2 linked regions of the Homo sapiens genome follow. The protein of the gene in region 2 binds, or shares a complex with, the protein of the main gene of each other region. Links are inferred from orthologs where the notes say so. Each region holds a gene or a part of one and is shown on either strand. Other genes may lie near its edges. The genes, in order: FUZ and CPLANE2.

Region 1 (4,212 bases), on a different chromosome or scaffold from region 2:
CCTCCTCTCACATTTCTTTGTCCACTTTTACTCCTCTTTATCTATCAGTTTAATCTCCTGTCTCCAACCTCTGGTGTTCCTCTCCTCTTCCTGTCCCTCCCTGATTTCTACCTTTCCATATCCTTTCCACCTTTCTCTCATCTTTTATAATTTTCTTCCTCTCTGGCGCCTCTGTTGATTTCAGTCTTACATTTTTCTCTCCTGTGTCTTGTATCACCTTTCTGGCCCCTTTATCCTTCCTTCCTTCTATCTCCCTTGGGTCCCGACTTCCCTGGGCTCCCCATCTCCTCTGAGTTCTGCCCCCAATGCCCCCACCCAGATGTACCGGCTGACCCTGCGCACCAGCAAGGAGCCCGTCTCCCGTCACCTGTGTGAGCTGCTGGCACAGCAGTTCTGAGCCCTGGACTCTGCCCCGGGGGATGTGGCCGGCACTGGGCAGCCCCTTGGACTGAGGCAGTTTTGGTGGATGGGGGACCTCCACTGGTGACAGAGAAGACACCAGGGTTTGGGGGATGCCTGGGACTTTCCTCCGGCCTTTTGTATTTTTATTTTTGTTCATCTGCTGCTGTTTACATTCTGGGGGGTTAGGGGGAGTCCCCCTCCCTCCCTTTCCCCCCCAAGCACAGAGGGGAGAGGGGCCAGGGAAGTGGATGTCTCCTCCCCTCCCACCCCACCCTGTTGTAGCCCCTCCTACCCCCTCCCCATCCAGGGGCTGTGTATTATTGTGAGCGAATAAACAGAGAGACGCTAACAGCCCCATGTCTGTGTCCATCACCCACTGCTAGGTAGTCAAAGAAGTGGGGTGAGGGCATGCAGAGTGTGGGTGGCCAGGCTTCGCAGCCCATGGGTGGGACTCTGGGGAGACAGCAGCAGCAGCAGCCGCCGAAGCCCCAGCTGCAAGGCCACCAGACGCACTCCTGTGCCTGGTTCCTCAGTCCCCAACACCAGGTAGCAAGCTCTGGGCAGCTGGGCCTGGTAGACCTCATCTTCTGTCTTCTCTGGTGGCCCTGGCTCTGGAGAAAGAACAGGGGGCACTGACATGACAAGTAGCATGCTAACCTTTGCAAGCCACACCACATCCTGATCCCAAGTTCTGAACGCGTGGGGTCTCTGAACACAGGTTTTGGGAGCCTCCTGCCAGGGGAGGGCCTCGGGGCTCTAGCTGGCTGTCAGCAACTTGAAGACCACAATGATGTCACTCAGCTCACCCTCTTCCTCTTTCTCAGCCTTGGCCCCCATTTTCCTGGAGAAACTGTGCAGCTGCAGGTGATCCTCTTAGCAATACACATGGCGAACACGGCAGCAACACAGGAGCTCCTGTAGCCTTTTCCAGGAGCCCACCCGCCCCACTGTACAAGGCGGGTGGAGGGAAACAGGCAGGGGCCAGTGGGAGGTGGAGTCGCACAGCTAAGAAGGGGTGCAGCCCCCGAGTTGGAGCTCTTGACCACTGTGCTGCATTCATCCGGGCTTCACTGGGGTCACAGCGCCATCCCAGGTCCCTTTCTTTGTCTTTCTGGGCCCTTAAGGGTTCTACGACAATTTTTCCGTTCTAACCCAGAATCTTGTGAAATCCTCCTCCATACCCTCAGCCTATCAGCAAAGCCTGTGCTTTTGGCAGTTGTGCAGAGCGCTGGACTGTGTGGATATGGGAGCAAGATCCCCTGTGTTCAAATATGGCTCTGCCACTCATGAGCTGAGCCTCAGTTTCCTCATCTGTAATATGGGAATGATGAGGTAATGGGATAGTCCTCACCTGTGAGGATGAAGTGATTTCATTCTTTCATTACGTGTAAAGGCACTGGGAAGAGGTGAGGTCTCAGTGTTAACTATTGTTGACTATGATCCAGGAGATTCTGAAGCCAGGCGGGGACCTCCCTTCCCCTCCCTTCCCATCTGCATCAATGCTCAGATCTCAAGGAAAACCACTGCCCTATGGCCCAGTGCATACTGGGTTCCTCCGGATCCTCCAACCCCACCTCCTACTCCCATTTTGTGCGACCTGGGACTCAGTGTCCCCGCCTGCGCAGTGGGAGCACTGTGCCTTCCGCTGACCTGGTGGGAAGTGCGTGGAGGTGACCAGGGTATAGAAGTTTCGGAGGAGGCGCCGGCGCTGTTCTGGTGAAGGCTCTGCTGGGAGGAAAAGGCGGTGATGCAGAGCGCCTCCCCGGCCCACGCCCCTCCTACCCCTGCCCCTGCCCCTGTCCTCAGTCACCTTTATCCCCCAAGGGCTCCACGGTGAAGAGGCAGCGCTTCAGTTCCAGGTGGAGGAGCAGCAGCCTGTGGGAAAGGGAAGGGAATGTCATGGCTGGGGAAGAGGACATGACCCCCGACCCACTCCCTCCATCCGAGCCCTACCCGAGGATGTCTGTGTGAAGGGGGAAGCCACTGGGCAGCGCCCGGGGTCCCAACGGCAGACAGGCCCGCAACGGGTCCAGCAGTGGCTGCCACCAGCGCTCCAGAAGCTGCAGGGGGCGTGGTCATTGTGAGGTCGTCATGGGAAGGCGGGGCCGGCGGGGGAGGTCGGGGGGTGTACAAGGATAGGGGCGTGGTCAATCGGGAGGGGCGGGGCCTGCAAGAAGAGTGGAGGGCGGAGGGCAGAAGGGACTGGGGAAGGGGCGAGGCCTGGAAGAATAGAGGCAGAGGCGGGAGCGGCCGATCTTGGCGGGTAGGTGAATGACTGGAGCGCAGTCCAGAAGAGGCGGGGCTGGGGAAAGATGCCGCTGGCAGGGCAGGGTGGTGGGGAAGGGCCCTCCTGGTAGCGGGTGTCCTAAGAGCGAAAGCGGGACGTGGCGCGGGTTCACCTGTGGATACAACTGGCTGAGGGGTGGGCTCGGCCCGCAGAGTAGACACAGCTCCAGGCTCGGCAGCAGAGTCAGGGTCAGGAGCCGGTGTGGGACCTGAAGCAGGGCACAGGCTGGGGCTCATCGCGGCCCGGCCCCTTTCCATCGCAGATCCCGCCTCCTCGCGACTCGGCCCCCAGGTCACATCCCTCCGTCGGTGCCCGCCACCCACTCACCGTGGGGCTCCCGTGCGGCAGGTACACCGGGTAGTCGCGAGCGGTCTGCGGCGGCAGGGACCCCACCAGCCAGGGGAGCAGCACGGCCTCGGGCGTCCCCAGCCGCCACCAACCCTCTGTTGCTGCCACCACCCGGCCGGACACCACCAGACTGACGAAGGTCGTGCCCGCGGCCTCAGCGAACCCGGAGAGGGCTTCCTGGGTACGGGAGGCAGGAGGACTGGGAGTCAGCAGACAAGCGTAGGGGGTGGCAGCGACTTCCCAGATGGGCAGGGAATGGGGAGAAACCCACAGCCAGCCCCGAGCTCGCGCAGTGGCCATGCTCCTACGTCTCACCCTCTCTGAGCCTGAGTTCCTTCACTTTCATACGAAGTCACATCCCCAACTCACACTGTGAAGTCTGTGAAATCTGATTAAACATCTAGCCTGGGCGGGCAAACTGAAGCTAATAATGTAACCGCAGCAGCTACCGTTCATCCAGGCCTGTTACATGCCGAGTAGGCACCATTAGCAACGTAGAGAAGCCAAGTCACCTGCTGAGAGTCACATGCCTGGGAGGCCGCCACACCAGGCAAGTCCACAAGAGCAGTATTTAAGTAGAGGTAGCTAGAGATCTGAGAGGCAGGAGGAAGAACATGCACTGAGGTTGGAAACTTGTTGGGATCTCAGGACTGTGAGGTAGCTGGGTGGAAGTAGACTGTGGATTTAGCAACAGGTTAGGGGGTGCCAGGTGCCACAGGCCTTCAAACACCAGGCTGAGGAGCTGGGACCTTGTCCTGGGGGAGGTGGAGGCTGCCGGAGGGCTGTGAGCAGGAAAGGGGCAGAGCCAGCTCTGGATATAGTAGGGTTCTTCTGGTGGCCGGGTGTGATGGCTCACACCTGTCATCCCAGCACTATGGGAGGCTGAGGCGGGAGGACTGCTTGAGCCCAGGAGTTCGAGACCAGCCCGGGCAACTTAATGGAAACCCATCCCCAACCCTAGTCCATCTCTTAAAAAAAAAAATAGCTGAATGTCAGCCGGGCGCGGTGGCTCATGCCTGTAATCCCAGCACTTTGGGAGGCTGAGGCGGGTGGATCACGAGGTCAGGCGTTCAAGACCAGCCTGGCCAACATAGTGAAACCCTGTCTCTACTAAAAATACAAAAAATTAGCTGGGCCAGGCGTGGTGACCAGCGCTTATAATCCTAGCTACTCGG
Region 2 (7,202 bases):
GGACGTCGGACAACTGCAGCTGCTGTGCCTGATGCCAGGACAGCCCTGCTCTCAGATGTAAATAGAGCAACCTTATAAACCTGGATTTTTTTGGTACAACCCTGACCCATTTGCTACATCTTTTTTTCTATGAAATATGTGAATGGCAATAAATTCATCTAGACTAAAAAAAAAAAAAAAAAAAAAGGTAATGAAGGGTGAGCATGGTGACTGATGACTGTAATCCCAGCACTTTCAGAGGCCAAGGCAGGCAGATCACTTGAGGCCAGGAGTTTGAGACAAGCCTGGGCAACAAGGCAAAACCGTACCTCTAAAAAAATACAAAAGAAAAAGTCCGGGCATGGTGGCTAATGCCTGTAATCCCAGCACTTTGGGAGGCCAAGGCGGGCGGATCACCCGAGGTCAGGAGTTCAAGACCAGCCTGGCCAACATGGTAGAACCCCGTCTCTACTAAAAATACAAAAATTAGCTGGGTGTGGTGGCAGGCGCCTGTAATCCCAGCTACTTGGGAGGCTGAGGCAGGAGAATCACTTGAACCTGGGAGATGGAGGTTGCAGTGAGCAAAGATCGCGCCATTGCACTCCAGCCTGGGGCACAAGAGCGAGACTTTGTCTCAAACAAACAAACAAAAATACAAAAAAAAAAAAAATTAGCCAGGCGTGCTGATATGCACCTGTAGTCCTAGCTCCCCTCGGGGCTGAGGCAGGAGGATTGCTTGAGCCTGAGGAGGTCGTGGCTGCAGTGAGCTGAGATCACACCACTGCCCTCTAGCCTGGGTGACAGAGTGAGGCCCTGTCTCAAAAAATAAAAGAAAAAGGTAATCAAGGTTAAATGAGACCATAAGCATGGAGCCCTAATCCAGTAGGACTAATGTCCTATTTGTAACAGAGGAAGAGACACCAGACATGTATAAGCACAGAGAAGAGGCCATCTGTAAGCCAGGAAGAGAGGCCCCACCCAGAAACCAACTCTGCTGGCACCTTGATCTTGGACTTCCAGCCTCTAGAACTATGAGAAAATAAATTTCTGTTGTTTAGAGTACCCAGACTGTGGTATTTTTGTTACAGCAGCCTGGGCTGACTCATATAGACCCCAACTTCAGAACTGCCTAGTGCTTTTGTCAAATCTGCAGGCTCACAGACCTACCCAGCCCCTGACACAGAATGTCGGGGTTGGATGTGTGAACCCCAAATATCTGAGACAGGTCACAGTCAATTTAGAAAGTTTATTTTGCCAAGGTTAAGGATGTGCCCGTGACAGCCTCAGGAAATCCTGAGACATATACCCAAGGTGGTCAGGGGTACAGTTTGCATTTAAGTTTTAGGGAGACATGAGACCTCAATCAATATGTGTAAGATGTACATTGGTTTGGTCTGGTAAGACAGGACAGCTTGAAGCAGGGGCTTCCAGGTTAGAAATACATAAGAGACAAGGCCAGGTGCAGTGGCTCATGCCTATAATCCCAGCACTTTGGAAGGCTGAGGTGGGCGGATCATGAGGTCAGGAGATCCAGACCATCCTGGCCAACATGGTGAAACCCCGTCTCTACTAAAATACAACAACAACAAAAATTAGCCGGACATGGTGGGGCATGCCTATAGTCCCAGCTACCTGGGAGGCTGAGGCAGGGGAATCACTTGAACCTCAGAGGCAGAGGTTGCAGTGAGCCGAGATTGTGCCACTGCACTCCAGCCTGGGCGACAGAGTGAGACTCTGTCTCAAAAAAAAAAAAAGTAGATAGGAGACAAAAGATTGCATTCTTTTGAGTCCTTGATCAGCCTTCCACTGAATACATAATTTTATTTATTCAGCTCTGTCACCCAGGCTGGAGTGCAGTGATATGATTCTGCTCACTGCAACCTCCACCTCCCAGGTTCAAGCGATTCTTCTGCCTCAACCTCCAGAGTAGCTGGGATTACAGGCGCCTGCCATCACAGCCAGATAATTTTTGTATTTTTAGTAGAGACAGGGTTCACCATGTTGGCCAGGCTGGTCTTGAACTCCTGACCTCGGGTGATTTGCCCGCCTCAGCCTCCCAAAGTGCTGGGATTACAGGCGTGAGCCACCGCGCCCAGCCATTTTTTTGTATATTTTTAGGGATAAGGTTTTGCCATGTTACCCAGGCTGGTCTCAAACTCCTGACCTCAAGTGGTCCACCAGCTTCAGCCTCCCAAAGTGCTGGGATTACAGGCGTGAGCCACCGCACATGGCCCCAAGAGGACTTTACATCTTCTCTGGGTTGCAGATTAACAGGCACGTTCATTCTGCCAAGTTGCTTCATTTTCTCACACGCTCACTGAGCCCTCCACGAGCCAAAGATGGGTGGATGTGAAGTCTGGAAATCCAGAAATAATTCAGATCAGAGCCCTGCCACTGAGTGACTCCTGGCCCATGGAGAGAGCTCTGGACAGCTGTGAATCTCCCTGACTGGGCAGATGTGACAGCTGCAGGAATGGGAACCATGTGACCTGGGAGTATGGGCAAAGGATTCCACCTGCAGAATCCTGTAGGAATGGTTATTCATCTGGTTTTTCTGCCTAGCCACAGCGTGAGCAAGTTGAGAGAAAGCACCTTGTCTTACACATCCTCATCCCCTCTCTTAGACATAATGGGCCTTAAAAATCTGTGAGTTCGTAGTCCTCTGGCTGCTTTCTGCTTCCCTAGGAACAGCCCTCCTAGTGGCTAGGGGCAAAGTTTTAAAAACACAAAACCCAAACTGGCAGAACAGATAAGTACTTTAGAGTCAGGTAAGTGTGGGTTCTTTTTTTTTTTTTTTTTTTTTTTTTGACAGGGCCTAGCTCTGTCACTCAGGCTGAAGTGCAGTGGCATGATCTCGGCTCACTGCAACCTCCATTTCCCGGGCTCAAGCAATCCTCTCATCTCAGCCTCCAAGTAGCTGGGACTACAGGCGTGCACTACTGTGCCCGGCTAATTTTTGTATTTTTTTTTTTGTAGAGGCAGGGTCTTACTATGTTGCCCAGGTTGGTCTCAAACTCCTGAGCTTAAGCAATCTGCCCGCCTCAGCTTCCCAAAGTGCTGGGATTACAGGCGTGAGCCACCACACCCAGCCAGCTGTGGGTTCTGAGTCGGTTTCACACTGACTAGCTGTGCGGTGTGACCTCAGACAAGTCACGTTATGTTTCTGAGAGTCTTCGTCAGTACAAGAGGGTAATACTATTTACACAGGTTTGTTTATAGAATTAAATCAGGTGACCCCTGTAAAGTCCCCACTGTCTGGCACTTGGGTGGCCTTAGGTAAAGCTTAACTCCTAAATTATTCCTTTCAAAACAGTGATTTGCCCTACTTGAAGGCATTGCGGAAAGATAATGGTAAAAATTAAATGTAATAGACAAACTCTCAGTAATGACCCACCTGCACTCTTTCCAACCAGTGGGCATTTACTGAGCACCCACCTTCTGGGTAACAGGCCTGGTGTCCAGTGCTGGAACGGTGGAGAGGAGCTCAGAGTTTCAGAGCTGAAAAGTCAGCTCCAGGAGAGCAGGGACTTCTTGTTGGCCACTGTATTCCCAGCTAGGTGCTCAGTATTTGTTGAATGAATGAATGAATGAAAAATACAATCCAGCGGGCCTCTGACTCATTTTTTAAAACTTGAGCCAAGTCCCTTGACCTCTCTGAGCTGGTGTGTGTCCCCATCAGTGAAGCCAGAGATGTTTAAGTCATCTAGAGGTCCTGCCAAGCAGGATTAATAGAGCAATAATATTAATAATAGCAACAATCATAACTAAACATATGGAGCACTGCTATGGAGGGAATAACATGTTACGTCCACGTTATAGAAGAGGAAACTGAGACACAGAGAAGCATGAAAGGCTCCTGGAGGGGGGGTTTCATGATGTTTTGGAAGAAAGACTAGGGATCGGACGGAGTCATAGAGAAGAGGATCCACAACCCAGAGGAAAAGGCCTAGTCCAGAGCCACCGCGCGGCGCAGGCTGCGGACGTTGTAGGAGGGACGAACGCCTCCCGGAACCCGCCCAACCCAACCTCCGGCGTCTCCATGGCAACAACCTCCGCACATGCGCCGCGCGCACCTGCGCCGGAGCTGCCAGCACGCGCAGAAGGCGGACGCAGGCGGGGCGGAAGTGGGCCCGGCGGGCTGGGGCGGCGGGAGTGCGGGTGGGCGTTTAAAGGGGCCTTCGGCACCCAGGTCGGTTCGCCGCCGGGACTGCTGACGGGGAGGGCTAGGTAGCCCTGGGAGTCGGGATCTAGAAGGTAGAGGAGAAGCGGGGCTGTCTGACCCCCGGAGGTGACAAGGGGAGAGGGGCTGTGTGAATACCCTCCATGGGCAGTAATGGGATGACTATCCCCAGGGAGCATTGCGAAGGAGAGAGGCGGCTGAGGGACTGCACTTTCTGGGGCCCCCCGGGAGAGTCAGAGGGCAGTTAAGAGGGATCACAGGCCCGGCTTGGTACTGTCACTCCCCTTCCCACTCCCTGCTCTCAGCATTCTGTCACCTCCCTACCCCGTCGCGGTGCCCAGCCATGGCCAGACCTCCCGTGCCCGGTTCGGTGGTTGTCCCAAACTGGCACGAGAGTGCCGAGGGCAAGGAGTACCTGGCTTGCATTCTGCGCAAGAACCGCCGGCGGGTGTTTGGTAAGTGCCTCCCCCTTTCCTCTAGCCCGCCACTTGTCTTTCCCTGGGGAGAAGAGTGTCACCTGTTGCTCCCTGAGGAGAGCAGAGAGGCAGGGCAGTGAGGGCCTGCTCCACTGCAGTCTTCAGCAGTCTTCAGCCTGGGGGACTGAAAGCCCTAGCTCTGGGACCCCCACACCTAAATCTCCTTAGAGCTAATTCCATCGTCAGAGCCAGGAACATGGAAACAGCAGAAACCTTGCCAGCAACCACTGTCACCAGAGATGCAGTTGATTGAGCACTCCCCTGGTGCCAGGCCCTCTGTTGGGCACGTTACACAGTGCACGCCCATTTAACCTCTCAACAGCACATGGTACAGACTTGGCTAAGATCACACCCCAATAAATAGAGGTGAGCCTCTTCCATGTCCTGCTGTCTCTGGGATGAGACGCTGGTGTTCCCCATGGTGAAACTGACTCACCCAGGCAGGGCCCAGCTGTCAGGCCGGCAGAGGTGCCTGGAATCAGCTGTGGAGCCCAGCTCTGGCCAGGAGAAGCAAGGTGCCAGAAGACTTAAGACCAGAGAGTGAGATAGCTAGAACCAAAATTTGTGAATAAGTCAACTGTTTGTTTGTTTTTTTAAAAGAAATTATATTAAATTCAAAAAATGACCCTCTAGAAGGCTGGGCGCAGTGGCCTGTAATCCCAGCACTTTGGGAGGCCGAGGTGGGCAAATCACCTGAGGTCAGGAGTTCAAGACCAGCCTGGCCAACATGGCGAAACCCCATCTTTACTAAAAATACAAAAATTAGCCGGACGTGGTGGCGGGCACCTGTAATCCCAGCTACTTGGGAGGCTGAGGCAGGAGAATCGCTTGAACACAGAAGGCAGAGGTTGCAGCAACCCTAGATCGAGCCATTGCATTCCATCCTGGGTGACAAGAGTGAAACTCCGTCTCAAAAAAAAAAAAAAAAAAAAGACCCTCTAATATGGCCACTGTCCCTCTAATCCCATGATGGCTGGCAACACTGTATTTGGGGTCACACATACCCAGGCAAGTGACCCAGGCTCCACCACTGCTAGCTGTATGGCTGGGAATAAGTGAACTCTAGCCTCAAGTCCCACCTCTGTAAAATGGGGATAATCACAGTATTTACCCCATAGAGTTACTGGGGAAATTAATAAGGAGGGTGTTTGTAACATACCAAGCAGGTTCTGGCATGCAGTGGGTGTTCACTGAAGGTTGGCTGTTATTGTATTTATTTTGCATTTAGTTGTGTTGAGTGGAAGAGAATTGAGTGAAGGTTGAGCTGATTTTCTGGGAACATCATAGAATCCACTGACCATATTATCTATGCCACAGATAGGATTAAGCAGCCATAACTTAGAGGAATGGCAGTGATGGCTTTTAATTTTTGTGTTTTTACTTTAACTGCAGACATTTGGGTTTTTTTTTAACAGCTGGGTTTATGCACCTGAATGTATCATTCAGTGGTTGTCATGCAGGCCCCACAACAAACGCTGAGAGCAGCTAGTAAATAAATATCAACAGACTGACTATAATGCTTAGGCTAGTCTCTTTGTATCCCAGACTTCTGTAAAATTAGGTTGAGTATTAAGAGCCACAGATGAGGCCGGGCACGGTGGCTCACGCCTGTAATCCCAGCACTTTGGGAGGCTGAGGCAGGCAGATCACCTGAGGTTGGGAGTTCGAGACCAGCCTGACCAACATGGAGAAACCCCATCTCTAAAAATACAAAATTAGCCAGGCATGGTGGCGCATGCCTATAATCCCAGCTACTCGGGAGGCTGAGGCAGGAGAATCACTTGAACCCGGGAGGCGGAAGTTGCAGTGAGATCACACCATTGCACTCCAGCCTGGGCAACAAAAGCGAAACTCCGTCTCAAAAAAAAACAAAAAAGAACCACAGATGGTTGGTTAGCCCTGAAGAAGCCATTAGAAATGAGGTTGTCCTTGGCTGTATGTGGTGGCTCATGCCTTGTAGTCCCAGCACTTTCGGAGGCCAAGGTGGGAGGATTGCTTGAGCCCAGGAGCTCAAGACCAGCCTGAGCAACATAGTGAGACCCCATCCGTATTAAAAATAGAAGGTAAAGAAAAAAAGTAAAAATAAATAAGTGAGACTGTCCAGCCCAGGATCTGATGGGGCAAGTGCAGGATTTACCCGCGTCTTAGTCCATTTTATGCTGCTACAACAGAATACCACACTCTAAGTTATTTATTTATTTATTTTTTGAGACAAAGTCTCGCTCTGTCGCCCAGGCTGGAGTGCAGTGGTGTGATCTCGGCTTAGCAACTTCCACCTCCCAGGTTCAAGCAGTTCTCCTGCCTCAGCCTCCCAAGAAGCTGGGATTATAGGCACCCACCACCACACCCAGCTGATTTTTGGTATTTTTTTTTGTAGAGATGGAGTTTCACCATGTTGGCCAGGCTGGTCTCGAACTCCTGACCTCAGGTGATCTGCCCGCCTTGGCCTCCCAAAGTGCTGGGATTACAGGTGTAAGCCACCGCACCAGGCCTCCTCTGTGTAATTTATAATGAACAGAAGCTTATTTGGCTCATGGTTCTGGAGGCTGGGAAGTCTAAGAACATGG

The links.
Region 1: the proteins of CPLANE2 (region 2) and FUZ are in contact, whole or in part, in a cryo-EM structure (PDB 7Q3E), measured with the Mus musculus proteins. The link is inferred for Homo sapiens from one-to-one orthologs. Residues at the interface, in NP_001074643.1 of Mus musculus: Glu36, Gly38, Leu39, Leu40, Glu41, Arg42, Val83, His84, His85, Glu86, Thr88, Gly89, Ile90, Gln91, Thr92, Thr93, Val94, Lys124, Phe125, Met128, Glu134; in NP_081652.2 of Mus musculus: Arg26, Arg35, Ile109, Val110, Lys126, Glu127, Arg129, Ala130, Tyr132, Cys133, Asp136, Gln215, Ala216, Ala217, Arg218, Asp219, Tyr220, Pro221, Tyr223, Pro232, Leu238, Thr239, Leu240, Leu241, Arg242, Pro255, Leu256, Gly257, Gln258, Pro261.

What each region holds. Positions count from the first base shown.
Region 1 is NC_000019.10:49,806,362-49,810,573, forward strand, and holds the end of FUZ (protein fuzzy homolog), read right to left. Parts: exon of another isoform or gene 3,215-4,212; coding exon 3,017-3,214; exon of another isoform or gene 2,952-3,016; intron 2,898-2,951; coding exon 2,802-2,897; intron 2,666-2,801; exon of another isoform or gene 2,559-2,665; intron 2,463-2,558; coding exon 2,356-2,462; intron 2,278-2,355; coding exon 2,213-2,277; intron 2,131-2,212; coding exon of another isoform or gene 2,128-2,130; coding exon 2,053-2,127; intron 1,799-2,052; coding exon of another isoform or gene 1,773-1,798; exon of another isoform or gene 1,754-1,772; intron 1,350-1,753; exon of another isoform or gene 1,209-1,349; intron 1,035-1,208; exon of another isoform or gene 1,014-1,034; coding exon 790-1,013; 3' UTR 505-789; downstream 1-504. Other genes in the region: AP2A1 (AP-2 complex subunit alpha-1), read left to right, coding at 320-397. UniProt on the Homo sapiens protein: Probable planar cell polarity effector involved in cilium biogenesis. May regulate protein and membrane transport to the cilium.
Region 2 is NC_000001.11:16,234,043-16,241,244, reverse strand, and holds the start of CPLANE2 (ciliogenesis and planar polarity effector 2), read left to right. Parts: upstream 1-4,061; 5' UTR 4,062-4,502; coding exon 4,503-4,614; intron 4,615-7,202. UniProt on the Homo sapiens protein: Required for efficient primary cilia initiation, regulating a late step in cilia initiation. Plays a role in the final maturation of the mother centriole and ciliary vesicle that allows extension of the ciliary axoneme.